Regions from separate parts of the Homo sapiens genome. Here all the other regions are linked to region 1. Evidence: fine-mapped QTL for protein levels in blood plasma. A gene starts in region 1. Each other region holds a variant in brackets. All regions are shown on one strand. Distances are between the middles of the regions. Region 1 holds the start of S100G (S100 calcium binding protein G). Region 2 has its middle 150 kb from the start of MIR548AM. Region 3 has its middle 210 kb from the start of MIR548AM. Region 4 overlaps CTPS2 (CTP synthase 2).

What was found. PIP is the chance, under the fine-mapping model, that this variant and not a neighbour inherited with it causes the effect. The UK Biobank Pharma Proteomics Project read protein levels with antibody pairs (Olink). The fine-mapping took linkage between variants from a reference panel, not from the people measured, so its PIPs are less certain.
Region 2: its variant is fine-mapped to the plasma level of the S100G protein (UK Biobank, PIP above 0.99).
Region 3: its variant is fine-mapped to the plasma level of the S100G protein (UK Biobank, PIP above 0.99).
Region 4: its variant is fine-mapped to the plasma level of the S100G protein (UK Biobank, PIP 0.95).

Annotation. Positions count from the first base shown.
Region 1 is chrX:16,642,695-16,650,797 of GRCh38, reverse strand. S100G (S100 calcium binding protein G) reads right to left here and starts at 640. Exons shown (of 3, transcript NM_004057.3): 1 at 595-640. All of the region lies in intron 13 of CTPS2 (CTP synthase 2), which reads left to right.
Region 2 is chrX:16,470,992-16,479,100 of GRCh38, reverse strand. It overlaps the pseudogene LOC100132857. Among named protein-coding and RNA genes, the nearest start is that of MIR548AM, 150 kb to the left of the region's middle. The variant G/A (reference allele first, on the strand shown) is at 3,529.
Region 3 is chrX:16,416,742-16,424,850 of GRCh38, reverse strand. No RefSeq gene overlaps it. Among named protein-coding and RNA genes, the nearest start is that of MIR548AM, 210 kb to the left of the region's middle. The variant C/T (reference allele first, on the strand shown) is at 4,462.
Region 4 is chrX:16,660,846-16,668,954 of GRCh38, reverse strand. CTPS2 (CTP synthase 2) reads left to right here. Exons shown (of 19, transcript NM_175859.3): 12 at 1,231-1,293; 13 at 1,398-1,441. Among named protein-coding and RNA genes, the nearest start is that of S100G, 15 kb to the right of the region's middle. The variant A/G (reference allele first, on the strand shown) is at 4,877.

The DNA of each region.
Region 1 (8,103 bases):
AGCTCATGCCTGTAATCCCAGCACTTTGGGAGGCCAAGGAGGGTGGATCACTTGAAGTCAGGAGTTCGAGACCATGGAAGCCTGGCCAACATGGTGAGACCCTGTCTCTATACAAAAATTAGCCAGGCGTGGTGGTGCGTGCCTATAGTCCCATCTACTTGGAAGACCGAGGCAGGAGAATCGCTTGAACCCGGGAGGCGGAGGTTGCAGTGAGTGCGATGCCACTGCACTCCAGCCTGGGTGACAGAGCGAGCCTCCGCTGCAAAAAAAAAAAAAAAAAAAAAAAGACATCTTAGATAGTATGTTAAATGTCTGTTCTTAGAGTACATCTGTTAGGAGATGGTCCCTGGAGCCAAACATTTTTATTAGTAATTAATGACATTCTACACTTTTTATGTACCTGATCTGCACTCTGCAGGCTGTGGTCTTGAAGAATACTTGACCACAGCTTCTAGCTTCTAAGTTACAGGGAATATCTCCAGATGGCATAAACTCACCTTCTCTCCAGACCATTATCTTTCACACCATTCTAAAAGGAAGCAGAGTATTAATGCAAACAGAAGGAGCTCTAGGTAGTACCAAAATCACACTAACCTGGTTGCCCAATAGTGAAACAGCTAGAAGAATCAAAGAGGAGTTTGAAGAGCTGAGCAGAATCATGACACTTTTATAGTCTTTACGGGCACGCCACCCTGATTATGAAAATTTCCTTTTGTTGGCCATTTAAGGGTAATTATTAATGGTTTTTGAAACTCAGGCTTAAGACTGCATGAACCCCATAATTAAGGGCAAGATCCAGTAAAGGTCCATCTCGACAGTTGCTTCATGGTTCAGAGTCGTAAGCTTGGATTTTTTTCCCCCTGAGATTATATTTTCCCTCCAATGTAGAATTATATTTGCTCACAGTTCACATTTCATAAAGCTTAGATATAGAGGATTCTTTTCAATTTAGTTGCATATTTAGGCTTTAAAAAATAACTTTCTTCATATCCAGAAAAAATAAATGCTGCCCTGTGCGGTAGCTCATGCCTGTAATCCCAGCACTTTGGGAGGCCGAGGCAGGAGGATTGCTTGAGGTGAGGAGTTTGATACCAGCCTGGTCAACACAGCAAGACATTTCTACTGAAAAATTTAAAAAATCAGCCAGGTGTGATGGTACATGCCTGTAGTCCCAGCTACTGTAGAGGCTGAGGTGGGAGGATTCCTTAAGCCTGGGAGGTTGAGGCAACAGTGAGCCATGATTGTGCCACTGCACTCCAGCCTGGGTGACAGAGTGAGATCCTGTCTGTAAAAAAGAAAAAATGCTGTCATAGAAGGACAATATTACATAGTTTAAAAAATTACGGTATGGCCATTGAAGTCCTTCTGATGTCTTTACATATTAGCAGCTTAAATATTTGAATACATGAATGAATGAATGGAAGTATTGCTTCAGAAGCAGGTTTAAGAAGTGGAAAGAAGATACTCAGTAATTTGTGGTTTTATTTGGCAAATCAATATTGAGTAACATGGTCATTTTTTCAGCTCTTTCATTATTTGTTGGTCCTGTGTCTGCTTTTTATTTCTCATTATCCTTTTCCTTACCAAATATATTTCGTGATCATTCGAAAAACTTGTGAGAACACTCGACTTACTCTTGTTCAGTTGGAAATACTTCAAACTTTTTGTAACTGCCATGATTTAAAATTGCCAAGGAGATTGATTTCTACTGGAAAGAGTTCCATGAAATAAGTAGGACATTTCCAAGGGACATTGATCTAATGCTGATTGTAACTCACAGGAAGGGGTTCCAGGTGGATTTTAAGAGCACTTTACAGCTTTGAAACACTTGTACACTTCCACACTTATAGAATTTTCCCTGACTCTGCCTTATATCACCTACAAACTGAGGACTGGACTATTGGGACTGTATTTCTCCCTGATGTTTCTCAGCTCTAAAATTCTAGGGCCTTATTTACATTGGAGAACAAATGGGAAATCTAATAGAATTCCTTAAAAGCTTCCCGCCAGTCTTGAGCATTTATCATTCCATGTGTCTTTGCTGTCTTGTATATATTCTTCTTGTTTTTATTATGGATTCTTTGACTTTGCTATGCACCAATATAGAATATGTATTAACTCACTGGTTGGAGTAAAGACAGGCATTTTATTTTTAGTTATAAGATTTTACACAAAAATATTCTGATTTTGGCAATGCATTTTAATCAAGATTTTAGAAAATTGCCAGTGTTTTTACACATATGTTCTGTTTTCCTGGGAGGAAGTAGGCGTTTGTGCTTAATCATAACAAGAACTATCTTTTTTTAAACATCTTTTAAAAAATATTTCAGATCTACAGAAAAGTGGCAAGAATAGTGCAATGAACACCAGTCTGCCTTTCGACTAGATTCACTAATTGCGAACATCTCCACATTTGCTTTCTCTTTCTCTGGACAGATACTTTCCTCCACCCCTGAGTCATTTGAGAATCAATTACAAACATCCAGATGCTTCCCCCCTGAGCACCTCAGCATCTGTCTCCTAAGGACAAAGACATTCTCCTATGTAACCACAATGCCATTATCATAGCCCACGTCAAATCTCTCCAATTGTTGAATAGCATCTTAAATCATCTTTTCTCTCAAATTACCACTAGTGAGCTAAAATCAAATGGGGTGTTTATTATGTTTTGCATCTGGTTTTTTTGTTTATTTTTTTGAAGCCACTTCACTGTGTCACTCAGGTTGGAGTGCAGTGGCGTGAACACAGCTCACTGCAGCCTCAACCTCCATGGGCTCAGGTGATCCTCCTACCTCAGCCTCCCGAGTAGCTGGGACTACAGGCATGTGCCACCATGCCCGGATACATATATATATATTTTGTGTATTTCTTGTAGAAAAATACAACATGGGTTTTGCCATGTTGCCCAGGATGGTCTCCAACTCCTGGGCTCAAATGATCTGCCCGCCTCAGTCTCCCAAACTGCTGGGATTACAGGCGTGAGCCACTGCACCTGGCCTATTTTTTGCATCTGAAGAAATGATTTTAATAACTATATGTCATCTTAGTAACGATATAGGATGAAAGATAACATGTTCTATATAATACACCCATATATTACATATGACGTGTGTATGTATATATAAAAATTATCTCTAAGAAAAACTTTTGGAGCAGTATTGGTTAATAGTCTTCTAGGCTACAAATCTCTTCTTTCAAGGGACAACTTCTGATTAGAATCAGCCCAATGCGGCCGGGCACGGTGGTTCACGCCTATAATCCCAGCACTTTGGGAGGCCGAGGTGGGCGGATCACCTGAGGTCAGGAGTTCGAGACCAGCCTGACCAACATGGAGAAACCTCATCTCTACTAAAAATACAAAAATTAGCCAGGCGTGGTGGTGCATGTTTGTAATTCCAGCTACTCGGGAAACTGAGGCAGGAGAATTGCTTGAACCCGGGAGGTGGAAGTTGCGTTGAGCTGAGATCCTGCCATTACACTCCAGCCTGGGCAATAAGAGCGAAACTTTGTCTCAAAAAAAAAAAAAAAAAAAAAAAAAAAAAGAATGGGCCCAATGCTGCCTATTGTCAGAATTTATACTTGTAGCGAATGCTAGCAAAACTTGAACTTGAAAAACAGCCTGTGCGGCTTCTTAAGTTTTTACTTGCTCACTTCTACCAGTCACATCTCTTGTCTCTTATTTTTCTCTTTACCCATAGACTTAAAAGCATGAGGGTAAACTTGCACTTGGAAGCATGAAAAATCCACTAATAGATACTCTTGTGAAACATTAACTAAAAATATATGGAGACAAGTGATAATTACAGGGTGTGTTCACAAGAGTGCGTTTTGAAACCAGAGAAGGGGGGAAACGACAGGCACAAGGGTGGTAATGGGAAAATGGAGAGGCAAAGGTTATTTATCACCTCACTGTTCAATTGTTTGATCTTTGGACAGGCTTAATTTTTCCTAGGAAAGCCAAGAGTAACATATTTTAAGAGCTCTGGGCACCACAGGCTTCTGTGGGTTATTCTGCTTGAAGGTGACAGCATGCAATGTCTTGAAAAGCACCTTCAGGAAGAGGGTACAGTGTTAGTACCTGGTCCCTGCAAAACAAAATGGGTGTGAAATGCTATCCATGGGTTCTTGTTATCTTTGATCCTGAAGTTTAAAAGAGACCTTGAATACTCAAATGCTGCTTTCCCAGAAAGTATAGCTTGCTTGTCACCTGACCTGGTGTCTACCTTCCCTGGACCTTCAGACAAAGTTCACTTCCAACCTTTGCCTGGGCTGTGAGGCTCACTGTCTTTTGGGTCAGCCTGTGCTCACCTTCAGCAGTTGAGTTCCCAGAGGTCTCCTGACCATAGCCTGTGCTTCTTGAGTGCGTATCTTTACTATGGGCAGTGTGCTGACCTAGGCACCCAACTCCCACGGCCTCCTTAAATCCTTGCTGCAACTTTATGAAGTGGATGCTGTTGGTCCCCCCAGTCTGTAGAGACATCCAAGGACCTGCTCAGGGTCACACTGCTGGTCAGCAGTAGAGCTGGGATTCAAGTTCAGGCCCAGCCTGCACCCTCAACCACCGTGCCACATGCCCCTCCCAGGAGAAGGGCTTCTCTGAGGACAACCATTGTATGTTAACATTAGGACCACAGGTAGTATCACACTTAAGTGTTAGGTTTACATCTGGAGGTATAAGAAGGTTCTTTTTCTGAGGTGTAAGAAAGTTCTTTTCCTGATGAAAATGATATAGGCCTTTGTCTGTTTTGCACTGCTATAACAGAGTACCTGAGACTGGCTAATTTATAAAGAAGAGAAATTTATTTCCTCACAGTTCTGGAGGGTGGCTGGGAAGTCCCAGATCAAGGTGCTGGCATCTGGTGAGGGCCTTCTTGCTGTGTCATCATGTGGTAGAAGGCATCACATGGGTGAGAGAGAGGGAAGGGGACTGAACTCATCCTTTTACCAGGAACCCATTCCCATGATAACTAACCCATTCCAATGATAATGGCATTAATCCATTCATGGGGGCAGAGCCCTTATAACTTAATTGCTTCTTAAAGATTCCACCTCTCAACACTGTTGCACTGAGGATTAAGCTTGCAACACATCAACTTTGGGGAATGCATTCAAACCATAGCAGCTTTCTTTTACTGGTGGGGAAAAAAACAAGTTTAAAAGACTGGAAAAATACATACGTACTTATGGGACTGCTCATTGATTTCCTCATTGTAGATTCCATTCTCACACTACTTGGTGACACAGCAGCGCAGGTTGGAAGCCAGAAATGGGAAATAAACTGCTTCAGGTTAGAGGCAGGACTCTGTCAGGCAGGACTGGGCATAGTGTGTACTCGGCCTCTGAGTAGGGCACCACCCCTCCCTTCCCGTCTGCTGAAGAGACTCACCTGCAACTTGGGACATCCATGAGTATCTCAGACACCCCTCTGCTACTCTGTGGCCCACTGACCCATCCCTTAGTCTCCCCTGTTAGTTTTTAATACACTTAAAACACTGTGAGATTCCAGGCCGGGTACAGTGGCTCATGCCTGTAATCCTAGCACTTTGGGAGGCTGAGGCGTGTGGTTCACAGGGTCAGGAGATCGAGACCATCCTGGCTAACACGGTGAAACCCCGTCTCTACTAAAAATACAAAAAAAAAAAAAAAAGTTAGCCGGGCATGGTGGCGGGCGCCTGTAGTCCCAGCTACTCAGGAGGCTGAGGCAGGAGAATGGCGTGAACCCGGGAGGCGGAGCTTGCAGTGAGCCGAGATCGTGCCACTGCACTCCAGCCTGGGCGACAGAGCAAGACTCCGTCTCAAAAAAACAAAAAACAAAAAACACTGAGAGATTCCATTATTGAGTACTTGATCTGAACTTGACACTGTGTCGAACTCCTCAGTGGAGATGGAAAATAAAAAGATCTAATCCTTGTGCTTGATGAGCCTACACTTAATTTATGAGAGGAGATGCATTTATGAAATAATAGAGGAAGTTAAAGCTGTTTGTAGTAAATAACGGTATTAGATTCCTATGGCTGTTGTAACAAATTACCACAAACACAGTGGCTTAAAACACATATACATTTCTTCTGGAAGTCAGAGATATAAAGTGGGTTGGCAGGGCAGTGTTCCTTCTGGAGGGTGTACGAGAGAATCCATTTCCTTGCTTTTTCCAGCTTCTAGAGGCCACTTGCCCACGGCCATCCTCCATCTTCAAAGCCAGCAGCATAGCATCTTCCAGTCTCTCTGATCTCTGCTTTGTGGTCATATCCCCTTTTCTGACCCTGACCCTCCTGCCTTCCTGTTTTAAGAGCCTTTGTGGTTACAATGGGCCCACCCTGATAATCCAGAATCTTCCCTTCTCAAGAGCCTCAATTTACAGGCTGGGCATGGTGGCTAATTCCTGTAATCCCAGAACTTTGGGAGGCCAAGGCTGGAGGATCATTTGAAGCCAGGAGTTCCAGACCAGCCTGGGCAACATGGCGAAACCCCATCTCTACAAAAAAATACCAAAAAATTAGCCGGGCATGGTGGCATGCACCTGTGGCCCCAGCTACTTGGAAGGCTGAGGTGGGAGGATCACTTGAAGCCAGGAGTCAGAGGCTGTAATGAGCTATGATCATGCCACTGCACCCCAGCCTTGGAGACAGAGTGAGATCCTGTCTCAAAAAAAAAAAAAGATCCTCAACTTAATCACATCTGCAAAGTCCCTTTTGCCACAGATTCATAGGTTTCAGGGACTAGGATGCGGATATCTTTAGGGTAGGGGAGGCATTATTCAGTCTCCTACTATGAGTTACTGAAAATGAATTGATGATGTATAGGTTATTTATTTGGTAGGCTGAGCATAACAATGGCATTAATTATGAGGCAGTAAGGGGAACTGGAGGGGGCCCCTAAAGCATGAGGAATGGGAGGGAGAAGGTATCTTGGGAAAAGTAGAGAAGGAGGTGGTCTGTGTGTAGTATGGTGGTGGGTAGGAGAGTGGAGGTGCCATTGACAATGGCCCCAGCTAGCTGTGGTAGAAGCTACAGGTTCGAATACATGAGGAGGGCATGGCTAGTCTGGGCTCCTGTGTGAGGTAGGACCTGAGAGCCACCCAGAAGAGTTTAGGTTTAGTCTGTAGTGATGGAGGCTGCTGGAGCTAGCAGTGCAACCCAACATTAGGGAAAGTAATGCTGATGTAAAACTGCTTGATACTTTATGTACAATTTGAATATGACTTAGAATCAAAATCAGAATCAGGCTTGAAAACCTAATGAGCAGTAGGAAAGGAATGAATTGGAGAATACTTGTAAAGAATACTAGAGGAGGCCGGGCGTGGTGGCTCATGCCTATAATCCCAGCACTTTGGGAGGCTGAGGTGGGCGGATTGCTTCAGCCCAGGAATTCAAGACCAGCCTGGGCAACATGATGAAACCCCGATGCTACAAAGTGGAAAAAAAAAATGCTAGAGGAAATTGCTGTATGTTGCCTAAGAGTCTGGAAATAGAAATAGCTGCTGGTGAGTAGGCTTTCCCTTTGTCTCCAGGTGAAATATTCAACGATGAGGAACAAAAGGAAAGCTGGGCTTACCAGGGTAGGTCAGGTAGGTCCAGTCAGGAATTTCACTGTTGCTAAGAGAACCTAACTCCTGTAGACTTTGTTGTTTAAGGCACCTGGGATGCTGTAAAGTCTTGAACTCATTACACTTTTATTATGGGCTGCAGAAAACATCAGTAAAGGTTAATTAGTGCCATATTTATCCTTACATGCTGATTTTACATCTCCTAAAGCTTTATCACTTATTGATCCTTTTTTATTTTTCTCATACTATATGGCTCAGTTCCAAGAGAGGACAAATCTGGGGATCAGATGACAGCCAGTATTTAGGCTGAATTAGAGGAAGCAAAGGCAATCCTTTTGCAATGGAAGATGCGTTTTCCTTTCAGATGCAAAAATCTAGAGTATTTTGGAAATGTTGGTGTTAAATCTAAAGCATATTTGAGATTATTTTCTTTAACCACCCCAGTAACAATAAAATAGATATGTTTTGAAACTGTGATGTTCTCCTGTCTCTCAGGCTTTTAGTGGAAGGAATGCAAGGAACAAAGACATTTTTGTTAATTTTTGCTGCTGAATCAG
Region 2 (8,109 bases), 170 kb after region 1:
TTAGACATCAGGAGATCATACTGGGGTGGTCAGATATATCTATTTGTCCAACATCATTTCAGAATTTCTGGAACCATCAAATGAATAAAACTTCTTTACATAATATAAATAGTATATATTTTTTCTAATTATAAAATATTATGTGATTATTGAAAAAAGATAATAAAAGGTATAGCAAACTTCAAAGAAGCAGGATCATCCTCTACCCCACCATAATCAATCCAGTTGTCTGCACCATTTTGGGTGTTTTCTTCCTGTTTTTTAAAATGCATTTTTTAGAACATAGTTGAGATCATACAACATATAATGGATAAGATCTATATTCAATCTAAAGCTATTTTAATTTATCCACCTAAGAGCAACCATATATTATGAAAACTATGATCTGAAACAAAGAAATGGAATGTTTGACATAATCAGGCTAAATAAATAAATAAATAAATAAAAGCAGGCCAGTAACTCCTTGTTTTCTCTAACCATTAACTCATCCCTTTCCTTCCTCATTCTGTTTATTAAGTCTGGAATATCCCTGGCTCCTCTCTTCCCTCCAAAGTCTCCTCCTTGAATGTGCCTATCATATTGATTTTTCACTTCTCTATTGTCCACTAAATTTGAGAATTCATTTACATGTAGTCTTGCTTCTAATTTTTTGTTTAATGATTTATATGTCTTACCTCATCTTACTTTTTGAGGTCAGGGGACATTTATTATAGTTTTTATACCCATCCTAATAAGTAGCAAACAGCCAGGAACATAGTAGGAGCTGAAGAAATATCTAGGGTTGACACCAAAAGTGTTTTAACAAATAGTTGCATGGGGAGATGTAATAGTTGAATTATCCAGACCTGTGCAGACAAAAACTATAGCTGCAGTGTTCAAAATGGTAGCCACTAACCACATGACTGTTGAGCATGTGAATTGTGGCTAGCATAAATTGAGATGTGCTGTAAACATAAAGTACATTAGGCATTTCAAAGGCATAGTATACAAAAAAAGAATGTAAACTATCTCAGTATTTTTTATGTTGACTACTTGTTGAAATGATAATATTTTGAACATAATTGAATTACATAAAATGTATTATTAAAATGAATTTCACCTCTTTCTATCCTTTTCAGTGTGCTACTAGAAAATGTAAAATTACATCTGTGGCTTGCATTGTACATATATTTTGTTGGATGTTGCTGTCTTGTATGGCAATGAAATGTAATGTTCGAGATTATTCTTTCTACAGGGCAGAAATTCATTATATTTCTAGATACAGTGTATTTGCATTTCAATGGATAATAATTATTTGCTTTACTAACAGTTTTCTATAGCTTAACTTCTACCCTTACAGAGTTACAAAATAGCCTAAATAATAGGAAGACAATCAGTCAAAGGTACATACCTGGATAGAGCCAGACAATCCTGGGATGGTCATTTGGATAATATGCAAGCACTTCACTGAAAGGACACTCAGTAATCTTTTGCCCATTGCCAAGTCTTTGGCAATTTTTCCTAAAAGCATCTTTCCATATTCTTTTGTTACTGTCCCATGTGATTATGTAGGATCACGTTTTCTTTTCTAGTTAATATCGACAAACTATACTTGCAAAATTCATACTTCAGCCAGAAAACAATGTTTTAGGAACTATGACGTTCCTAATAATAAGGTTAAAAATGTTGGGAGTAAAATTAAAAAGAAAAAAAAATCATATAGAATAGAACCAAACTTGAATAAAGAATCATATAGAATAGAACCAAACACTTGAAATGATTGAAAAGATAGTGAAATTAATTGCATTTTGTCATTACTCCTTAGCTTATCATACTCTTGTCGAATGGGTGGAAACCATATTCTTTTCTACTATTTAATTAGCTGGAAACAAAGCCTGGCTATTGGTTGACTGGATCTAGTATAAATCCCCCCTCCCCCATTTTTGATTAATCAAATTGCCACTCCTTATTTATTTATTTAAATTAACAAATAATTGTGTATATGTTTATGGTGTATGGCATGAGGTTTGGAATTATGTCTACATTGTGTGGAATGGCTAAATTGAGCTAATTAACATATGCATTACCTTAAATATTTATTTGTGGTAAGAACACAAAATCTTAGCAATTTTCAAGTATATAATATATTGTTATTAACTACAGTCTCCATGTTGCACAATAGACCTCTTAACTTATTCCTTCTGTTTAACAAACTTTGTACTCTTTGACCAACATCTGCCCCGCCCACAGCCCCTGGTAACCACCATTCTATTCTCTGCTTCCATGAGTTCAACTTTATTAGATTCCACACATAAGTAAGATCATACGGTATTTGTCTTTGCTCTTTCTTTTAAAGGAAATAAATTCTTCTCCTTTTTAAGTCAAAGGACTTTTTTTGTGACTTTTGGGTCTGTTCACTCTGCTATGGAGATTAACAAATATTAATTAGTGGATGACTGCTAGGAAGTGAAACTCACAACCAATGAAGTGGTTAATTAAAGTTGAACTTTTTGATTGTCATTTCTAATATTTTTTATATTTTATATATATATATATATATATATATATACAAGTTTCTTTAAATTATTGATTTAAACACCTTAGTCCAAAAGAAGATTAAAAAATGGCTGAAAAGGGATTACAGAGATGACTTTTGTTTCAAATATTTTTAAAACATCCAAAATTTAAAGTAGATAACTATCCCTCAAAGTTAGCTGCTCCAAGCTTGATTTGACATTTGACGTTCCTGATGCTCTGGCTCAGATCAGAGCAGTTCCAAGAGGCTTGGTGGTGGCGATGGGGGTTCGGTGAGAAGTGGGGCAGGCAGGTCTAGATCCGGCCCCGCCCTTACCCCAGGACACCCCCTTTTCTGTGTGCTTTGGACTTCAGCGTCAGTTCTTCCGGCCCAGGGAGGCTATGGAATTGAGGGCAAGTGTTTGCATTATTGATGAGGGTACAAAGGACTCCAGAAGTTTTGAGGCTTTGCTTTTCCCCTTAGCCCTACAGGGTCAGGCTTTCATGCAGAAATTGGCCTGGAAATTCTCCACCGTTTTCATAGCTGCAATGTTTTTGAGGTGTTTTTTAGATAACAAAAAACTAAATACAATTCTCAAAGCTTATTTTGTTTACTTTTAGAGTACACAAAGCAATTTTGCAACAATTACAATTATATATATTCTACTTGCTACTAAGACTGTATAACATTGGTGGGGATAAGAGATTATATGTTTTTTCCTAAAAATATCTACTTAATGCACTCTTTTAATTTTTATTTTTATTTCAATAGTTTTGGGGGTACAGGTGGTTTTGGTTACATGGATACATTCTTTAGTGGTGATTTCTGAGACTTTTGCTCTCCCCATCACCCAAGCAGTGTACACGGTACCCAATATGTAGTCTTTTATCTCTCACCCCCTCCTAACTTCCCCCTCCACAGTCCCCAAAGTCCATTATATCATTCTTATGCCTTTGCATCCTCATAGCTTAGCACCCACTTATAAGTGAGAACATACGATATTTGGTTTTCCATTTCTGAGTTATTCCACTTAG[G/A]ATAATGGCCTCCACTCCATCCAAGTTGCTGCAAAAGACATTATTTTATTCCTTTTTATGGCTGAGTAGTATTCCATGGTGTATATATACCACATTTTCTTTATCCACTTGTTGGTTGATGGGCACTTAGGTTGGTTCCATATCTGCAATTGCGAATTGAATGCATTCCTTTTAATAGTTAGTTTTGCTGTCAATCTCTTTTCCTGTTTAATTATTTGAACTATTGGACCCTGAGGATCTGCCCCTGAACATCTCCTGAGAAGTGCTCCAGCAGAGCGAAATCTTGAAAGTCATTCATGAAAACGTTGTTAAGAAGTGGCTTGAGCCCTTCTCTGAGCTGGCAGAAGTGAAGGAGAATTACAAGAAATTCTATGAGGCATTCTCTAAAAATCTAAACCTTGGGATCCATGAGGACTCCACCAACCAGGGACGTCTGTCTGAGCTGCTGTGCTATCACACCTCCCAGTCTGAAGATGAGATGACATCTCTGTCAGAGTATCTCTCTCACATGAAGGAGGCACAGAAGTCCATCTATTACATCACTGGTGAGAGCAAAGAGCAGGTAGACACCTCTCAAAGCGGGGCTTCGAGGTGTTATATTAGACCAAGCTCACTGATGAGTACTGCGTGCAGCTGGTCAAGGAGTTTGATAAGAAAAGCCTGGTCTCTATTACCTCAGGTCGAGCTACCTGAGGATGAGAGGAGAAGAAGAAAATGGAGGAGAGCAAGGCAAAGTTTGAGAACCTCTGCAAGCTTATGAAAGAAATCTTAGATAAGAAGGTTGAGAAGGTGACAGCCTCCAATAGGCTTGTGTCTTCACCCTGCTGCATTGTGATCAGCACCCTATGGCTGGACAGCCAATATGGAGTGAATCAAGAAAGCTCAGACACTTGGAGACAACTCTCTAATGGGCTACATGGTGGCCAAAAAGCGCGTGGAGATCAACCCGACCACCCCATTGTGGAGATGCTGCAGCAGAAGGCTGAGACAGACAAGAACAGCAAAGCTGTCAAGGACCTGGTGGTGCTGCTGTTTGAAACTGCTCTGTTTTCTTCTGGCTTCTCCCTTGAGGATCCCCAGACCCTCCACCTGCATCTACCACATGATCAAGCTAGGTATAGGTATTGATGAAGATGAAGTGACAACAGAGGAACCCAGTGCTGTTGTTTCTGATGAGATACCCCTGCTTGAGGGTGAGGAGAATGGGTCTTACATGGAAGAAGTAGACTAGGAGTTTATATTTGGAAACCTTGTGCCCTTGTATAGTGTCCCCATGGTTCCTTGAGTGGCTCTGTCCCGCGGCCTTGAGTGGCCTTATCCCACCTGGCTCCCTCTGCTGATGTCTAGTGTTTTTTCTGTCCTGTCCGTGTGTCTAAGGCAGGAAACAAGAGCCTTAAGCCCCATTCTCTTTCTACTTTTATAACAGGATATTGGATGTTGTGTATTGTGCTTTTTTGTTTATTTTGTTCTGAAATGAAAGTATACCAAATAAAGCAGATGCCGTTTTTATGTGGGAAAAAAAAAAACACTTGCCTGTTCTGTGTTTTGATTTTCTTGATAGTAACATTTGCAGCACAAGCATTTTTAATTTTGGTGAAGTCCAATTTATCTATTTTTTCTTTTGTCACTTGTGCTTTTGGTTGTGCTTCGACCTTGTCAGATCTAAGGAGCCATTGTCTAATCAAGTAATTAGCTTTCAGTGTCTCCTGAGAATAAGGGCCATAGAAGAGGCTGAGTAAAGACTTGCAACAATGATATGTAATTGCATGTGCATTTTTAAAAATAGACTATTTTTAGAGCAATTTTCATTTTACAGCAAAATTAAGCAGAAAGCATAGAATTTCATATGTCCCCTTCCCCTGTACCACATCTGGCCTCCTCCATTACCAACATCCCACACCACAGTGGTTCATTTGTTACAATTGATGAACCTACGTTGACATGTCGTTATCATCCAAAGTGCAGTTTGCATCAGGGTTCACTCTTAGTGGTGCACATTCTATGGGTTTGGACAAATGTATAATGATATGGATCCACCATTACAGTATCATACAGAATACTTTCACATTCCTATACATCCTCTGTGCTTTGCCTATTCATCCCTCCCTCTTCCCAACCCCTGGAGAAAACTGACCTTTTTACCATCTCCATAGTTTCACCTTTTCCAAAATGTCATATAGTTAGAACCATACAGTATGTAGACTTTTCAGATTGGCTTCTTTCACTTAGTAATATGTATTTAAGGTTCTTTCCTGTCTTTTCATAGCTTGATAGCTCATTTCTTTTTAGCATTGAAAGATATTTCATTGTCTGGATGTACCACCATTTATCCAGGTACTGAAGGACATCTTGGTTGCTTCCAAATTTTGGCAATTATGAAGAAGGCTGCTATAAACATCTGTATGTAGGTTTTTGTGAAGACATAAATTTTCTACTTGTTTGGGTAAATACCAAAGAGCATGATTGCTGGATTGTATGGTAAGAGTATGTTTAGTTTTGCAAGAAACTGCTGAACTGTCTTCCAAGGTGGCTGTACCATATTGTAGTCCCACTAGTAATGAATGAGAGCTCTTGTTGCTCCACATTCTTGCCAGCATTTGGTGTTATCAGTGTTTTGGATTTTCACCATTCTAATAGGTATGTAGTGCTATTTCATTGTTGTTTTAATTTGCATTTTCTTGATGACAGATGATATGGAGCATGTTTTCATATGTTTATTTGCCATCTTCATATCTTCTTTGGTGAGATGTCTGTTCAGATCTTTTGCCCATTTTTTAAACTGGATTGTTCATTTTCCATATTGCGGGGTTTTAAGAGTTCTTTGTGTATTTTGGATTATAGTTCTTTATCAGATCTGTCTTTTGCAAACATTTTCTCCTAGTTTGTGGCTTGTCCTCTCATTCTCTTGAAGTGATTGTATTTCCTTGAATTATTCACTTCACATTCACTTACTGAGCATCTTCTATGGTCTAGGTTCTCCGCAAGGCTCTGGGTATATAAAAGTGATTAAGACATAACCTTGCTTTTAGACACTTTTAGTGTGATGAAGGAGAAGGATGAGTAAATAGGTGATTAGAACACTCTTCTAAGTAAGCAGTCTCAGGCTTCTTGGAAGAGGAGTGTAAGACATAAAGAAAAAGGATATTGACAACAAGCACAGGTGGGCAGAGCCTTCTGGGTGAAGGGAACACTACATCACAATGACATAAGTAAGTTCTTGTCAATATGATCATTAGCTATTATTGCTATGGTAATAGTGTGTCTAGGCTAGAAGTAGGCAAACTATGGCTGTGGGCCAAATCTGGCTGGCCATCTGCTCTTGTAAATAAAGTTTCATTGGAATACATTCATGTCCATTTATACACATATTTTCTGTAGCCACTTTTGTGCTACAAGTAGTTGCAAAAGAGACAGTCTTGCTTGCAAAGCCTCAACTATTACTCCCAGGCCCTTTACAGGTGGGGCTCAGACTGGAGGGGCAAAGATAGACTGCTGCTTTAGTGAGATGCTTTAGTGATTTTTCCGCGGCAAAACCACATGGCAAAAGTCATGGACAGGTGGAGAATTGATTCCAATCACATGTCTGAGGGCATGGCAAGCTACACATATTTTTCAGGAGCAGCAGAAGTTTCATTCATGGCTGGTCAAAATTAATATCTGTTAAATGACAGCGACTTTCTCCCCATTTCCTGTGTCTAAGAGGAACTACACTGTAAAAAACTCCTGGCAGGCAGCTCTGACATTTTTCTTTTTTCAGCAAGGTAAACAGATGTAGATCACTTTCTTTCTGATTGTCCCAGAATAATTTGAGATGAGAAAAGAAGACATGACCTGGGGCACTTAAAGACAGGTTGCTTTTCACTAACAAAGCTGGAAGACTTTTTGAGCTCTTCTAAATTATAAGTTTATTATAGCTGGAAAGACTTTCTTTTCAGATAAAGATAAAGAGGGCATCTCAATTTCTTTGTGAGATATGATTAGCTTCCTGGAAATCCTGTCTATATAGCTCACTCGTGATGCTTACTTTTTAGGTGTTATCTACTTACATGGTATTTTTCATTTCTCCCTTAACATCAGTGTGCTGGGAAAAAAGTACACCCACACGCATAATTTACGTATATAATTGTATAAGTGCATATATATATATATCTCCATTTGTCCTGAGACTGGGCCAGGTTGTGAGGCTGTGAAGTATGAGGTTGGTAGAAACTACCTTTGAGGGGTCTTTCAGTTTTCCTTTGATCTGTCTTTTAACCAGCCCCCGATCCTGCTTTCTGCTCCCTAACTAATTTCTTCTCCCATAACTCCCCACCCCTTCCTGGGCACGGGGGTCTTTTGGGCTTGTCACCTCTCTGGAAAGTGCACTGTGTGATAAGCACATTTGTACTGACATGTTAGTAAGTTTATGGCTTTTCAAGTGGGACATGAGAAGTGGGCACGACTCAACCAAAGGAAAAAAATACTCTGATAATTGAACTGTAGACAACAGCACAGAAGAGGTATTATGTTTATATTGGGGATTTTCCTAGCACCTCTCCCTTTATATTATATCACATAAATGATTACCCCCTTCATCAAACA
Region 3 (8,109 bases), 230 kb after region 1:
AATGGATGGGATTTATGTCATTTCAACCTCTCACATGAAGCATTCTCTAATTTTTGTTTGGGATGAAAGAGCTGGTTGCTGACTGGAGTTGGATGGGCTACATAAGTATCCTAGATCCTTAATTATGAAATAACATTGTAATTATTTTCCGACTTTAGAATCATCTCTCTCTTTCACTTTCTACTTGCAGCCTGCCACTAAGCATTTCCTTCCTCTGCAATATTTCTTGGCTCTCCTGCTTCCTTTTCATTTTCACCCCAATCCCATAATAACCAATGGCCATCTTAGATCCACAGTGCATCATCTGCCTTCTTTCTGGTTTCTCTGTTTCTTGTCTTTATTCCAGTGCATTCTACACATAGCAGCATGAATCCTTTCTACAACTATTATTGGATTAGGCCACTCCCATTCTAAGAAGCCCAGAATAACTCTCAATTTCCTCTTGAATAAAATTAAACCTCCTAATCACATACTCTAAGCTCCTTAGCCTGTAACCTCCTCTACTTGATGCCCCCCTTGCCTGCCTCAATTGGACATCCTACTGCAGCTACATAAGCCCGTCTACACTTCCTGTCCGTTGTGTGTATTTACACCCACCAGTTAACTCGACAAAGAGCCTTTGGGCATCTCATCTCTCCTGTTCAGAATGTCTCCCCTCTTCATTTTACCTGGGAAACAATTGGTTTGGTTTAATTATGTTTAACTCAGTGTTTCCCAAATTTATTTCACCATGGAACACTTTTGCTCACAAGATAGCTGTTAAAACTGTACTGGATAGCTCTTGTCTTCTCCTTCTCCACCCACAACCCTCCTCTATTCTGCTATGTGCCTTGTGAGGGAGGCAGACATGGATGGTCTGCATCAACAGATCCCCTTTGATCTCCATCGTGGTTACTTTTATGTGTCAACTTGCCTAGGCTCTATTGCCCAGTTATTCAATCAAACACTAATCCAGATACTACTGTGAAGGTGTTTTGTAGATGTGTCTAATCAGTACACTTTAAGTAAAGCAAATTACCCTCCATAATTTGGGTGGGCCGTATCCTAATTGTTTGAAGGCCTTAAGAGCAAAAACCGAGGTTTCCTGTAGAAATTCTAGCTCAAGAAGGCAACATTAGCTTCTGCCTGAGTTTCCAGCCTGTCCTACGCATTTTGGACTTGCCAGGTCCCCTTATCCCCCCACTCATCCCCCAAACAAATGAGCCAATTCCTTAAAACCTTTCTTTCTCCCCACCTTCCCCTGTCTTTCTCTTTCTAAATATTGGTTCTGTTTCTCTGGAGAACTGTGACTGACACACTCTTTAACTTCCGGTTAGTTTGGCCAGTGGGTGCTGATCTTATGATTAGAAGGAGGAAGGACTTAGGATATTTATCCTCTGGGTCACCTACAATTCACTGCATCTGTGGACAGAAGTCACAGTTCCTCTCTGGAGCCTTCTTTCTGTGACTCTTTCCTTCTTGCTTCTGGGTTCAGTAAACCACCCCATCCTCTTTTCCCTTTAGGTCTGGGGATGGTAAGAACTTTCAGCTGTTACTAGACCTGGGATACTGACCTATTTCTTGTGGTTTCCCTACGCTGTTGCGGGAAGTCAGGAATCCCAAACGGAGGGACCGGCTGAAGCCATGGCAGAAGAACATAAATTGTGATGTCAGGGGAAATTCAGCCAGGTATTGGGCGAAATTCACCCCCAATATTTCACGTAGGTTCTTTTCTATATTCCCTAAGTGTCGGCTGGTCTGAGAAACAAAGGGACAGAGTACAAAAGAGAGAAATTTTAAAGCTGGGTGTCCAGGGGAGACGTCACGTGTCGGCAGGTTCTGTGATGCCCCCCAAGCCGTAAAACCAGCAAGTTTTTATTAGTGATTTTCAAAAGGGGAGGGAGTGTATGAATAGGGTGTGGGTCACAGAGATCACGTGCTTCACAAGGTAATAGAATATCACAAGGCAAATGGAGGCAGGGCGAGATCACAGGACCACGGGACTGGAGCGAAATTAAAATTGCTAATGAAGTTTCGGGCATGCATTGTCATTGATAACATCTTATCAGGAGACAGGATTTGAGAGCAGACAACCGGTCTGACCAAAATTTATTAGGCGGGAATTTCCTCGTCCTAATAAGCCTGGGAGCGTTACGGGAGACTGGGGCTTATTTCATCCCTATAGCTTCAACCATAAAAGACGGCTGCCCCCCCGAAGCGGCCATTTTAGAGGCCTACCCTCAGGAACGCATTCTCTTTCTCAGGGATGTTCCTTGCTGAGAAAAAGAATTCAGTGATATTTCTCCCATTTGCCTTTGAAAGAAGAGAAATATGGCTCTGTTCCGCCTAGCTCACCGGCAGTCAGAGTTTAAGGTTATCTCTCTTGTTTCCTGAACATTGCTGTTATCCTGTTCTTTTTTCAAGGTGCCCAGATTTCATATTATTCAAACACACATGCTCTACAAACAATTTGTGCAGTTAACACAATCATCACAGGGTCTTGAGGTGACATACATCCTCCTCAGCTTACGAAGATGATGGGATTAGGAGATTAAAGTAAAGACAGGCATAGGAAATTACAAGGGTATTGATTGGGGAAGTGATAAGTGTCCATGAAATCTTCACAATTTATGTTCAGAGATTGTAGTAAAGACAGGCATAAGAAGTTATAAAAGTATTAATTTGGGGAACTAATAAATGTCCATGAAATCTTCACAATTTATGTTCTTCTGCCATGGCTTCAGCCGGTCCCTCCGTTTGGGGTTCCTGAATTTCCACAACACTATACTCTGCCACATCTTTGTGAACAGCCCATTATTCATCTTTCCTCAAATTGCCCAATTTAAGTGTACTGTTTCCTGACATGACTTTCACTGATATAATGGCTCATGGAATTAGTGTTCCAAGGAAACTGTGCTTCAACTTCAACCTTTCTTTTATTAGGATGGCAAAATTGTAGGGCTCATTGTTTCCCAAAACAGCCTGGGGAAGTCAGGACAAGCTTCACAGAAAAACTGATTCCGGGTTAGGAGTTGAATCATGGGTAGGTTAGTTCCACTGGAGAGAAGGTGGGCATGGCAACAGAGAGTGACAACTAACATTTGTATATTTGGCAGTTATAAACTTGGTCTGCGTATCTTATCTCATTTGATCCTCTCAACAATCCTGTGATGTGAACAATTATTCTTGTGTCACAGATAATAAAAAAATGAGCAAACAAGCAGGGTGTGTGTTCAGGGATGCAGGAGATATTGTTCTAATTAGAGAGTTCTTGATGAAAAGTAGGGAAGAATAAAGGTTTTAGTTTAGGCAGGGCCAAATGATGTGTGATCCAGAGGGTGGAGATGAGGAGTTTGATTTGATGCAAGAGGCTGCAGAGAGCTTTTGAAGGATTATTTCAAAAATTTTTAAATTGACTATATAAATAACACACATTCATGGTAGAATATTTGGGAAAGTAAAGTATAAAGAAGAAAATAAACATCATCTGTAATTTTATCACTGATATGATTTGGATCTGTGTCCCTGCCCAAATCTTATGTTGAATTGTAATCCCCAGTGTTGGAGGTGGGGCCTAGTATGAGGTGATTGGATCAAAGGGGTGGGTTTCTCATGAATGGCTTAGCACCATCCCCCTTGGTGCTGTTCTCGTGATAGTGAGTTCTTCCAAGATCTGGTTGTTTAAAAGTGTGTAGCACCTCCCCCCTTGCTCTCTCTCTTGCTCCAGCTCCTGTCATGTAAGACGCCTGCTCCCACTTTGTCTTCTGCCATTATTGGAAGCTTCCTGAGGCCTCCCCAGAAGCAGAAGCTGCTATGCTTCCTGTAAAGTCTGCAGAACCATGAGCCAATTAAACCTCTTTTCTTTATAAATTACCCAGTCTCAGGTATTTCTTTACAGCAATGCAAGAATGGACTAACACAATCACCAAGTGATATCCTTGTTTTTCCCCCTCTTAAAATTTGAGATCAATCAGCATTCATAACATTGTGCCCTGTTTTAGTCATCTGACTCAGAAGTTTCTCAACCATGGTGATACTGACATTTGCAGCTGGATCATTCTTTGCCGTGGGGGCTGTTCCTGTGCACTATAGAATTTTTAGCAGTATCCCTGACCTTTACCCACTAGCTGCTGGTAGCACTCCTCTCCCTCCAGCTCTGACAACCAAAAATATCTCCAGACATTTTTATTTATTTATTTATTTTTTTGAGGTGGAGTTTCGCTCTTGTTGCCCAGGCTGGAGTGCAATGGCATGATCTCAGCTCACTGCAACCTCCACCTTCTGGGTTCAAGGGATTCTCCTGCCTCAGCCTCCCAAGTAGCTGAGATTACAGGTGCCTGCCACCACGCCCGGCTAATTTTTTGTATTTTTACTAGAGATGGAGTTTCACCCTGTTGGCCACGCTGGTCTCGAGCTCCTGACCTCAGGTGATCCACCCGTCTTGGCCTACCAAAGTGCTGGGATTACAGGCATGAGCCACCA[C/T]GCCTGGCCCAGACATTTTTGCCAAATGCTCCTTGATGGGGAAAATAATCTCTGGTTGAGAATCTTTGATTTAACTTTATATTGTGAGCACTTTCTCCATATCATTGAGTAGTCATTTAAAAAATCCATGTGATAGACATACCATACTTTATTTACTTATGGCTTTTTCCCCTCAAATATTTAGTTTGTTTCTTTTCTTTTTTTTTACATCATGAACAACACAGTGATGAGTATCCTTGCCTATACATCTTTGGTAGAATTTCTAATTATCTCTTAAGCACCAATTCCTAGAAGTACATTTTCTTTCTTTCTTTCTTTTTGTTTTTTTTGAGACGGAGTCTCGTTCTGTCGCCCAGGCTGGAGTGCAGTGGCACGATCTCGGCTCACTGCAACCTCCGCCTCCTGGGTTCAAGCAATTCTCTGTCTCAACCTCCCGAGTATCTGGGATTACGGGCACCCGCCACCATGCCTGGCTAATTTTTTTTTGTATTTTTAGTAGAGATGGGGTTTCACCATCTTGGCCAGGCTGGTCTTGAACTCCTGACCTCGTGATCCACCCACCTCAGTCTCTCAAAGTGCTGGGATTACAGGCATGAACCACCGCGCCCGGCCTAGAAGTACATTTCTGAGTCAAAAGACATGAATGTTTCAAGGCTCCTGGAATATTGTTCTGAAAAAGTGCCTCTATGTTATCAACCCTCATAAGCCCTGAGGATTATCCTTAGGAAAACTCCTGGTATGTATATAAGTTTTAAAAAACGGACATCCTAAAATTTTAATTTGCACTTTTTGATCTTTAGTAAAGTTTTTCCATATGTTGCTGGAAAGTCTGGATTTCTTTTTGTTTATTTCCTTTTGCCTAACTTGTAGATTGTTGGATGTTTTAATCATTATGAAAGCAGTGTTTAGAAAGATACCATCTGACCTGTGTTTTGGGGGATTAAACTGATTTGCATTTCTGTTTTTCAGGTCTCTTGTTTTTCCAGTTTTCAGCTCTGATGTCAGAAATTTATTCAACTTTGTAAGGAAAATCTAACTCCAGGCCAGGTGCAGTGGCTCACGCCTGTAATCCCAGTACTTTGGGAGGCTGAGGCGGGCAGATCATTTGAGGCCAGGAGTTGGAGACCAGCCTGGTCAACATGGTGAAACCCCATCTCTACTAAAAATACAAAAATTAGGGAGGTGTGGTGGTGCGCACCTGTAATCCCAACTACTCAGGAGGCTGAGGCACGAGAATCACTTGAACCCAGGAGGCGGAGGTTGCAGTGAGCCAAGATTGCACCACTGCACTCCAGCCTGGGCAACAGAGCAAGACACTTTCTCAAAAAAGAAAAAGAAAAGAAAATCTAACTCTGTCCTCAAAAGAAGCATGGAAGGAAAGAAAGCAAAGAAAGACTTGCAAATAGACTTTTCAAACTTCTAGTTAACAACTTCAAAGTCCCACTTTCTGTAGCCAAGTCTGCTAGTATTTTCTGCTTAGTATTATAAATGGATTGTTATTCACTGCTGTGCTCTCCTGGGGATGTAAAATTAGACCTGGAATCCAGTCCCAGCTCTTCCTCCAACTACTTCTCTAATCTCAGGCAATTGCTTCATCTCTCTGAACCTAACTCTCCTCATTTATAAAATAATGTGGTCAGTGAAGATTATCTCTCAAGGCCTTTAGAATTCTAGAAATTTGTGTTCATGTAGTGGGAAGAAAATAACTGGATGGCAACAACCTGGGACCCTGGAGTCTTGTTTTGAGCAGGGGGAAGAAAAGCCATGCAATGTTAAAATACTATAATGAAACAAAATAATGGCAAAATGCAACACTTGTCAATTCTAATCGTTAATGAGCTTTATGTCTCTTACCTTTTACTATTCTGCAGCACTTTTGTCTACTAACAACAGGAATTTTCCTGAAGTGCCAAATATTTACAAAGGCAGTGGTAGAGTGGGGGGGTTTACTTAGGGGTTGCTGTTGAGACAGGAAAAGTTGCAAAATTGGTTTTTGCAGGTGATATAGTCTATCTCATTGTATATATTTGTCTGTTTACTGTCTTCTCCACTGGAATGGAAATTCCATGAGGAAAGAGACTTTTTGTGTATCTTGTCCATCACGGGATCCTCAGTACCTAGACAGTGCCCAGCACATGGTATGTGCTCAGTAAGTACATGAAGAACAAATACATAAATAAATGGATGAACTGGAATGTCTCTGTAGCACATACAAGTATAACTTATGAAAACAACTTACTCAAAGAGTCGCAAGAGCTCTCCGATTTTAATTTTGTGACTATGGAGCTTGAACCCTAATCAAGTTCCTCAAAATGTGCCCTCTGCAAATAAGTCCAGCAAATATAGCTTTTTTTTTTTTTTTTTTTTTTTTTTGTGAGACAGAGTCTCACTCTGTCACTCAGGCTGGGAGTGCAGTGGTGTGATCTTGGCTCACTGCAACCTCTGCCTCCCTCAAGCGATTCTTATGTCTCAGCCTCCCAAGTAGCTGGGATTATAGGCATGTGCCACCATGCCCAGCTAATTTTCGTATGTTTCACCATGTTGGTCAGGCTGGTTTCAACCTCAAATGGTCTACCCGCCTCAGCCTCCCAAAGTGCTGGAATTACAGGCATGAGCCACCACGCTGGCCAAATATAGCTATTTTAAAGTTAACTAAATGGATGAAATTAATTATATTTGAGAACGATTGACTGAACAAATGAATGGAGAAATAAAAAAAAGCAATGAAGGAGCAAGTGGTCTAACAGATAGATTAAAATAAACTTGGCTAAAAATTAATTTTACAGGAGAATTTGGATATGAGTTTCCTTTGCCATCATTTAAAGCTTTTATGAAGATAATTTTGGAAATATGTTCATCAATATTATTATCATTTATTAGAACAGAGATTTATGAAAACAGATGCTGTTAATTTTTTTCTACCACCTAGAAGGCAGATTAATACATGTTCACAAATACAATAACAAGAAGGGTGATGAAACTACAGATATAGGGGAAGGAAGCCACTTCAGGACTGCAAAACAATGAGGACCTTTGAGCTCCATTTGCTGCCTCACCTGTAAAATGAGAATGGAAACTCTGTAAAAATGGTGAGGGAATAGCTATGATTGCTGTTTGCAAGGTATAAATAGATTTTGGGAAATTATCATTGCAGCAGCAAGCAGTTTCAAAATTATGTTAGAGAACTCCATTTTGCTGTGAAGTTGTAGACATGCAATGCCAAAGAACACCAGCTTTTGACTCCATGTGATTTATGTGTAAAATTCACTCTAGAAGTTCAGCAAGGCTGACATGTGGGTCCACAAGTTTGCCAATTGTCTTCAAATGTGCAGTCAAGATGTATGAGCCAGCCAAATAAATCCTCAAAAGTAGTAAGAGAAAAGATAATCTATTTGAATCACACTTTCTTTTCAGAGACAAACTTCTTCAGTCTCTCAACATAATATTAGCAAGCTATGTTACTACTTCTTAAGATGAAATTATTGTTTTCTCTGGTAATTAAGTATTTAATTCCAATGACTACAGTGACTATGTCTGGCTGGTTTGTGGTAGAGACTATTGGGCTGTCAACCATACTTGTTTCCTGGACACACAACTGAACTACATTTCCCAGCCTCCCTTGCAGTTATGTACAGTTAGGTGTGACAG
Region 4 (8,109 bases), 18 kb before region 1:
GGAAACTCCCTCTGAGTTGGGGTGTTAGATGTTCTCTGAAGGAATCAGGCACTGCAGCCCACTAAGATGCCTCAACTCAGGGACAAATCTAGAAGGTGGCAGATTTGTCTCATGGACTCTGCCTCTTTCTTTCCTTCTTTCCTTCCTTCCTTCCTTCCTTCCTTCCTTCCTTCCTTCCTTCCTTTCCTTCCTTCCTTCCTTCTTTCTTTCTTTCTCTCTTTCTCCCTTCCCTCCCTTCCCTCCCCTTCCTTTTCCTTCTCCTTCCTTCCTTCTTTCTTCCTTCTTCCTTCCTTCCTTCCTTCCATCCTTCCTTCTTCCCTTCTTCCTTCCTTCCCTCCTTCCTCTCTCTCTTTTTATTTTCTTTTTTTTTGAGACAGAGTCTCGCTCTGTCGCCCAGGCTGGAGTGCAGTGGCGCGATCTCTGCTCACTGTAAGCTCTGCCTCCCAGGTTCACGCCACTCCCCTGCCTCAGCCTCCCGAGTAGCTGGGACTACAGGCACCCACCACCATGCCTGGCTAATTTTTTTTTGTATTTTTTTTTTTTTAGTAGAGATGGGGTTTCACCATGTTAGCCAGGATGGTCTCGATCTCCTGACCTCGTGATCCGCCCAACTCAGCCTCCCAAAGCGCTGGGATTACAAGTGTGAGCCACCGCACCCAGCTCCTCCTTCCTCTCTTTCTCTCTTTCTTCTCTTTCTTTCCTTCCTTCTTTCTCACCCAGCCTGGAGCACAGTGGTGTGATCTCAGCTCACTGCAACCTCTGCCTCCCGGGCTCAAGTAATTCTCCTGCCTCAGCCTCCCAAGTAGCTGGGACTATAGGTGCATGCCACCACACCTGGCTAATTTTTGTATTTTTAGTAGAGGCTGGTTTCACCATGTTGGCCAGGCTGGTCTCGAACTCCTGACCTCAAGTAATCTGCTCACTTTGGCTTTCCAAAGTGCTGAGATTGCAGGCTTGAGCCATTGCGCCCAGTTGACCCTGCACTTTTCTGACCTCATGTTCCTTCTTTGTCAACTTTGGGACTTAGGCGGCTTCATGATAGTCTAAGCCCCTGCCCTGCTCTCTGTCAGGGATTCTTCTGAGAGGACAGCAGGGAGCAAAACAGGCAGAGTCTTGCTCTCTGGGAGTCTGCATTCTAGATAGGGGAGACAGGCAGCCAACAAATGAACAGAAAATGTGAACAAATACAAAGTGAGTTCATTTGCTTTGCATATGTGCTTTTTAAAATAGGAGTTTGTCTTGGGATGCAACTAGCAGTGATAGAGTTTGCAAGAAACTGCCTTAACTTGAAAGGTAAGTTCGAGGTTTGCTAATGACCATTTATTTAAAAAATTTTCTCTCTTCAAATATTTTTCAGCACTATTGGTGAATTACTGAACTCTTTTCTTAATCTTCAGATGCTGATTCCACAGAGTTTAGGCCAAATGCCCCAGTTCCTCTGGTAAGTGGCTTGTTTATCTTTCTGGGTCCAGTCATTGTCACTTGGGTCCTGGCTCTTGCCTAAATTCATAAGGGGCTATTGGCTGGGCGCCATGGCTCACCCCTGTAATCCCAGCACTTTGGGAGGTCAAGGCGGGCGGATCACTTGAGGTTAGGAGTTCAAGAGTAGCCTGGTCAACATGGTGAAACCCCTGTCTCTACTAAAAATACAAAAATTAGCTGGCTGTGGTGGCAGATGCGTGTAATATCAGCTACTCGGGAGGCTGAGGCAGGAGAATTGCTGGAACCCGGGAGGTGGAGGTTGCAGTGAGCCAAGATCATGCCACCGCACTCCAGCCTCAGTGACAGAGTGAGACTCCTTCTCAAAAAAAAAAAAAGGCGGGGGGGGGTCTATTATTATTTTTTCTTTACAGCACCAGAACATTTTAAATTACATTATTCTTATATTAAATTCCTTTGTTCTTGATAGTCCATCTTCTCAGCTATGCCTTAAAGACAGTCACAATCCTGGACTGATTTCTCTTTGTCGCAGCTTTCAAGCTTAATGTTTAGGAAAGGATTAAATCGGCTGTGACAACAATTTATAACATCTACTATAAATAAATGAGCTGTCCTGTCTCCAGACTCATCACCAGTCTGCCTATTTTCCACACTGGTGGTCATCTGTCTTTCTAAAACAAAAGCGACAGTGATTCTGCTGCCAGTCCTCATCTTCCATCAGTTTCTTTTCCCTTAAAATATTCAGTCCAGGATTCTGGGCTGGGTCCCAAAGCCACTGTGCTCTGTCACCTGCTGCTTTGCTGATTCATCCCATGGCATCCTGATTCCTCCCAGGCTTTGAGTTTTTTTCTTTTTTGTGTTTTTTTGAGGCAAGTTCTCACTCTGTCACACAGGCTGGAATGCAGTGGCATGATCACGGCTCACGGAAGCCTAGACCTCCCGGGGTCAAACAATCTTCCCACCTCATTTTTTGATTTTTTTTGTAGAGACAAGGTCTCACTATGTTGCCCAGGCTACATGCTTTGAGTTTTACGTTTGGACAATCTAAACTAGTTTTTCAGATACAGCCTGAGGTTCCCTATACCTGAGATGTCCACCTGCCTAAAATCCCTCTCCCCCTGGAATCTCAATAAAAGCATTGAAAAATTTAATTAACAACAACTCAGTTACCAACAACTTCCTATTCATCTGAGGAAACCTTTCCTGACCTCTTTTCTTTACCTGCCTCTGCCTTCTGCCTCATGCTACTGTGCTCACCACTAACAGAGCGAGTTCTGCAAGATGATGGTTGGCCTTCAGTCAGCCTGTTTGCCAGCCACCCATGCACACCCAGTCGTGTCCCTGCTGCTGGGCACCTACTTCTAATGGAGCTCGCGCCTCACAATCGCGATTGGTTTTTTAAACAGCTTTATTGAGATACAATTCATATACCACAAAATTTAGCCATTTAAACTGTATAATCCGGCCAGATGCGGTGGCTCACGCCTGTAATCCCAACACTTTGGGAGGCCTAGGCAGGTCAATCACTTGAGGTCAGGAGTTCGAGACTAGACTGGCCAACAAGTTGAAACCCCATCTCTACTAAAAATACAAAAAATTAGCTGGGCGTGCTGGTGCATGCTTGTAATCCCAGCTGCTAGGGAGGCTGACACAGGAAAATTGCTTGAACCCAGGAGGCGTTGGTTGCAGTGAGCTGAGATCGTGCCATTGCACTCCAGCCTGGGCAACAGAGTGAGACTTTGTCTCAAAAAACAAACAAACAAAAAACTGTATAATCCAATGGTTTTTAGCATATTCACGGATCTGTGCCACTCTCATTACAAGCAATTTTGGGCCATTTTCATTACTCCAAAAAGAAACCCCACACGCCTTAGCTGACACCCCCAAGCCTCCTATCTCCACCAGCCCCAGGCAACCATTAGTCTACCTTCTGTCTTCATAGATTTGCCTGTTTGAATCATTTAATATAAATGGAATCATCCAATATGTAGCCTTTTGTGACTGGTTGCTTTTACTTAGGATAATGTTTTCAAAGTCTGTCTATGTTGTAACACGTATCAGTACTTTGTTTCTTTTTATTGCTGATTAATATTTCATTATATGGACATGAAACATTTTATTTATCCATTGATGAACATCTGCATTGTTTCTACTTTTTGGCATTGTGACTAACGCTGCTGTGAACATTCATGTGCAAGTTTTTGTGTGGACATATGTTTTCATTTCACCAGGAGTGGAATTTCTGAGTCATATGGTAATTCTGTGTTTAACCCTTTGAGGAGCTGTAGGACTGTTTTCCAAAGTGGCTGCAACATTTTAATTTCCTGCCAGCAATGTATGAGGGTCCTAATTTGTCCATATCCTTGTGAACATTTGTTATTTCTGTCTTTTTGATGATAGCCATCCTAGTGGATGTGAAGTGGTGTCTCATCGTGGCTTTGATTTGCAGTTGCCTGATGGCTAAGGATGTTGAGCATCTTTTCATGTGTTTATTGGCCACTTGTATGTCTTCTCTGGAGAAAGGTCCATTCACATCCTTTGTCTATTTTAAAATTAGGGTATTTGTATTTTTATTATTGAGTTGTAACAGTTCTTTATATATTCTAGATATAAGTTCCTTATATATAATCTGTGCTATCGGCATTTGGGAACACATCATTCTTTGTTGTATGTGGGAGCTCCTGCCCACTAGGTGCCAGTATCACTCCCTAACCCCTGCCCAACTGTGACACTAAAAGTACCTCCAGATATTGTCAAATATCTCTTGGGGGCAGGGGCAGAATCGCCCTGGTTGAGAACCACTGATTTAGAGAAATCTAGTTCTATTTCTGTCCCCTGTAGCCTGTTTAATCCCTTCCCTTATGGCAAGCATTCATTCTTTTTTTTCTTGGTTCATCTTCCCATTTTTTACATATAAGTAAAGCTGTATGTCTTTGTCATCCACTTCCCTTCTTAGGGAAATGGTAGCATACTCTACACAGTTTTTTCCTGCCTTGCATTTTTCGCTTAACACTGTATGCTGGAGATCACCCCACGGAAGCACATAGAAGCATTCTTCACTCTTTTTTTTTATAGCTTGTAACTCAAACCATAATGAACCATAACTTACCAGCCAGATGGTACTTTTAAGTCTTATGCTCAGAAGGCCTAATACCAATGAAGGGTTCCTTATGAGCCTTTAATATAAACATATTTCCTGACTAATAGCTGAAATGGCTGTGCCAGGAAAACTATGGGTTTTCTTTTCTAAGATATACTTTGGGATAGGAAGTGATTTTACCAGTAGGTGCCACTGTTAGATAGTGTTGGCAAGGTTAATTCTTTGATGATTATTCTTTACTGGGGGTGTGTGTACGTGCGTTAAAAAATTTTTACACATGGCCGGGCGCAGTGGCTCATGCCTATAATCCCAGCACTTTGGGAGGCCAAGGCGGGC[A/G]GATCACAAGGTCAGGAGATCAAGACCATCCTGGCTAACATGGTGAAACTTTGTCTCTACTAAAAACATAAAGAAATTAGCTGGGCGTGGTGGCACGCGCCTGTAGTCCCAGCTACTCGGGAGGCTGAGGCAGGAGAATGGCGTGAACCCAGGAGGCAGAGCTTCCAGTGAGCCGAGATTGCACCACTGTACTCCAGCCTGGGTGACAAAGCAAGACTCTGCCTCAAAAAAAATGAAAAAAAATTTTTTTTTACACAGAGTAAAAAAGTTAAGCCCTGCAGAAAAAGGTACAGAACTGTCTCTCCTTTGCCCCCACCTCACTTCGGTTCCCTTCCCCAGTGGCAACTACTTTGATCCATTTCTTTCTTTCTTTTTTTCCTTTTTAAAGAGATGGGCTGTCTCACTATGTTGCCCAGGCTGGATATTCACAGGTGTGATCATAGCGCACTACAGCCTCGAACTCCTGAGCTCAAGTGATTTTCCCACCTCAACTTCCCAAGTAGCTGAAACTACAGGAGCTCAGCTGATGCATTTCTTTAGTTATTTCAGAGATTTGTGTGTGTGTTTTTGTGTGTGTATACCCACTTAGCCACACACATATGAATATGTATTGCGTTTAAAAAAAAGATCTTGGCTAGGTGCAGTGTCTCATGCCTGTAATCCCTGCACTTTTGGAGGCTGAGGCGGGAGGACTGCTTGAGTCTTGGAGTTTGAGAGCAGCCTGGGCAACATAGTTACACCTTGCCTCTACAATAAATAAATAAAATTACCTGGGCATGGTGGCATGCACCTATAGTCCTAGCTACTCGGGAGGCTGAGGGGGAGGATCACTTGAGCCCCAGGGGTTGAGCTGCAGTGAGCTGTGATCACGCCGCTGCATTCCAGCCTGGGTGACAGAGCGAGACCCTGTCTCAAAACAAAACCAAACAAAACAACTTTGTAGCATGCTCCAGACACTGTTCCCACCTTGCTTTATATACTGATCATTCCACATCAATGTGCAGGGATGTCTTCGGTGTGCTTGCTCTGCTGTATGCTATATGGCTGCATCCTTATTTATTTAACCAGTCTCATATTTAGTTTGTGTCCATTATTTTGCTGCTTTAATTTATGCTGCAAATTAGTATCCATGTACATATATCCTTGCACCCACGCGCGAACACATCTGCAGGGATAGATTCCTAGAAGGGGAGTTGCTAAGTCAGAGGATGTGTGCATTTTACATTTTGATGGCTCCTATACACATAAGTGAGATGAGAACAATAAAAGCTAATTGCTATTGAACGTCTTTATGGCCTGCAATGTTTGTTGGAGAAAAATAGCCTTAAGAGCTAGCACTTGTATCGATGTGAGAAGTCTTATTAAAAAAAAAAAAAAAAAGACTAAGGAGATAGAATCATAAGGCAGCAAGCACCATGAAGCCTGCAGAGTTACTTAAGCTTGAGCAAATAACAGTTACTTTGTGGGGACTGGTCATTCTGGCTGTTCTAGCTAGGAAAGTAAACAGTTTGGAAACCAGGAGCCTTCTATAGGGAATATTTACTCCTAAGATCTCTTCATAGGTCATCATGACCCTCCTTTGGCATGCATGATTAGTGCTATGGCTGTTGATGAAATCAATAGAGACACTGGCATCCAGAACAGTTCCAAGAGAAAGTGTCTGTTATACACATAAAAAGAGAAACAGATTTTTCCCTAAGGGTTAAGGTAGACTCTTTCTGCGTCTCAGAGTGCCCAGGAGAGAATGAGTAAAATTTATTTTATTGTGTCATTTCTCTGCTTAATCCACAAGGTGAAATTGAAGGCTCTGGGACTTTGCAGAATACTTAGGGTTCTATAGCAACTCTGGTTTTTTGCCCTGCTTCAAAGTAGTCTCAGCTGCCTTCTAGATGGTACATAACCAAGAGCGTAGCTGTTGCTGACTTACATTCTAACCCTATATCAATCACATGGCTGCTGCTGACATCCTTGACCTTGAATTTGGCTTCAGATCTCTCCAGTACATCTGTAGTGTAGTTCACAGCACTTTGGACTTTATATTTTGAATATTTTCAGCTTTTGAGGCATATATATATATATATATATGAATGAACAATCTCAATCTAATGTGTAGGCATGTGAATGTGCTTAACTCTAAGCATTTCTTTTCTGTTTGTTGAAAAAGGTAACTAAAAATTCTAAATTTACATAAGATATTACACCCTGAAGACAGAATTCATGTTCCACCTTCAAAAGACATCAGCACACACATGCACACTTGGATGGTGGTATGGGAAAGGAACAGGGAGAAATTCAAAGCATTTTAACGAGATGCAAATGGATATTTGAGATTTTGGTATTTGATATTATTTCAGTTTTCATTATTTATCATAGGTATGACGTCATTTATCCCTTTTTGATCCAGGAATTTTCAGGGTTAAGTGAATTTTACATCTACCATAGTAGATTTGTGAAACAGTCACATAATTAAAAGCTGATTTGGGTGAAAGTTGATTTTTGTTATACATGAAGTATAATTGATTAATGCATAACATTTTCCTGCCTTTAGTTGAAGCCCTGTTTAAAATATTTTCCTCATCTGTATTATTTTTCAACAACTTCATATGGAGTGCAAATTAAGAGGTGTTGAAAACAAACCAGATGGCCCACTTAGAATTATCTTTTAGGCAATTTTGATTACTTTGAGGATTTTCTTGCATTTAGAGTGTTGAAGTAAGCATCTCCTGACTATTACAAAGATCATATAGAAATCACTTGGAGGTTAGTTAGGGCTAAAAATCCTTTTTCCCATAAAAGTAGTCATTAGGAATACAGCTATAGGCCGGGTGTGGTGGCTCACACCTGTAATCCCAGCACTTTGGGAGGCTGAGGCCGGTGGATCGCCTGAGGTCAGGAGTTTGAGACCAGCCTGGCCAACGTAGTGAAACCCCGTCTCTACTAAAAATACAAAAAATTAGCTGAGCGTGGTAGTGGGTGCCTGTAATCCCAGCTACTGGGAGGCTGAGGCAGGAGAATCACTTGAACCTGGGAGGTGGAGGTTGCAGTGAGCCAAGATCGCGCCATTGCACTCCAGCCTGGGCAACAAGAGCGAAACTCTGTCTCAAAAAAAAAAAAAAATGCAGCTATAATATGGGTTAAATAGCTTTTTACAGACCACTCTGGGAGCCTAATACTCCTTTGATACTGTCTCTGTGGGGATAGTAGGTTTAGAGTTGACATCAGACTGTTGGCTG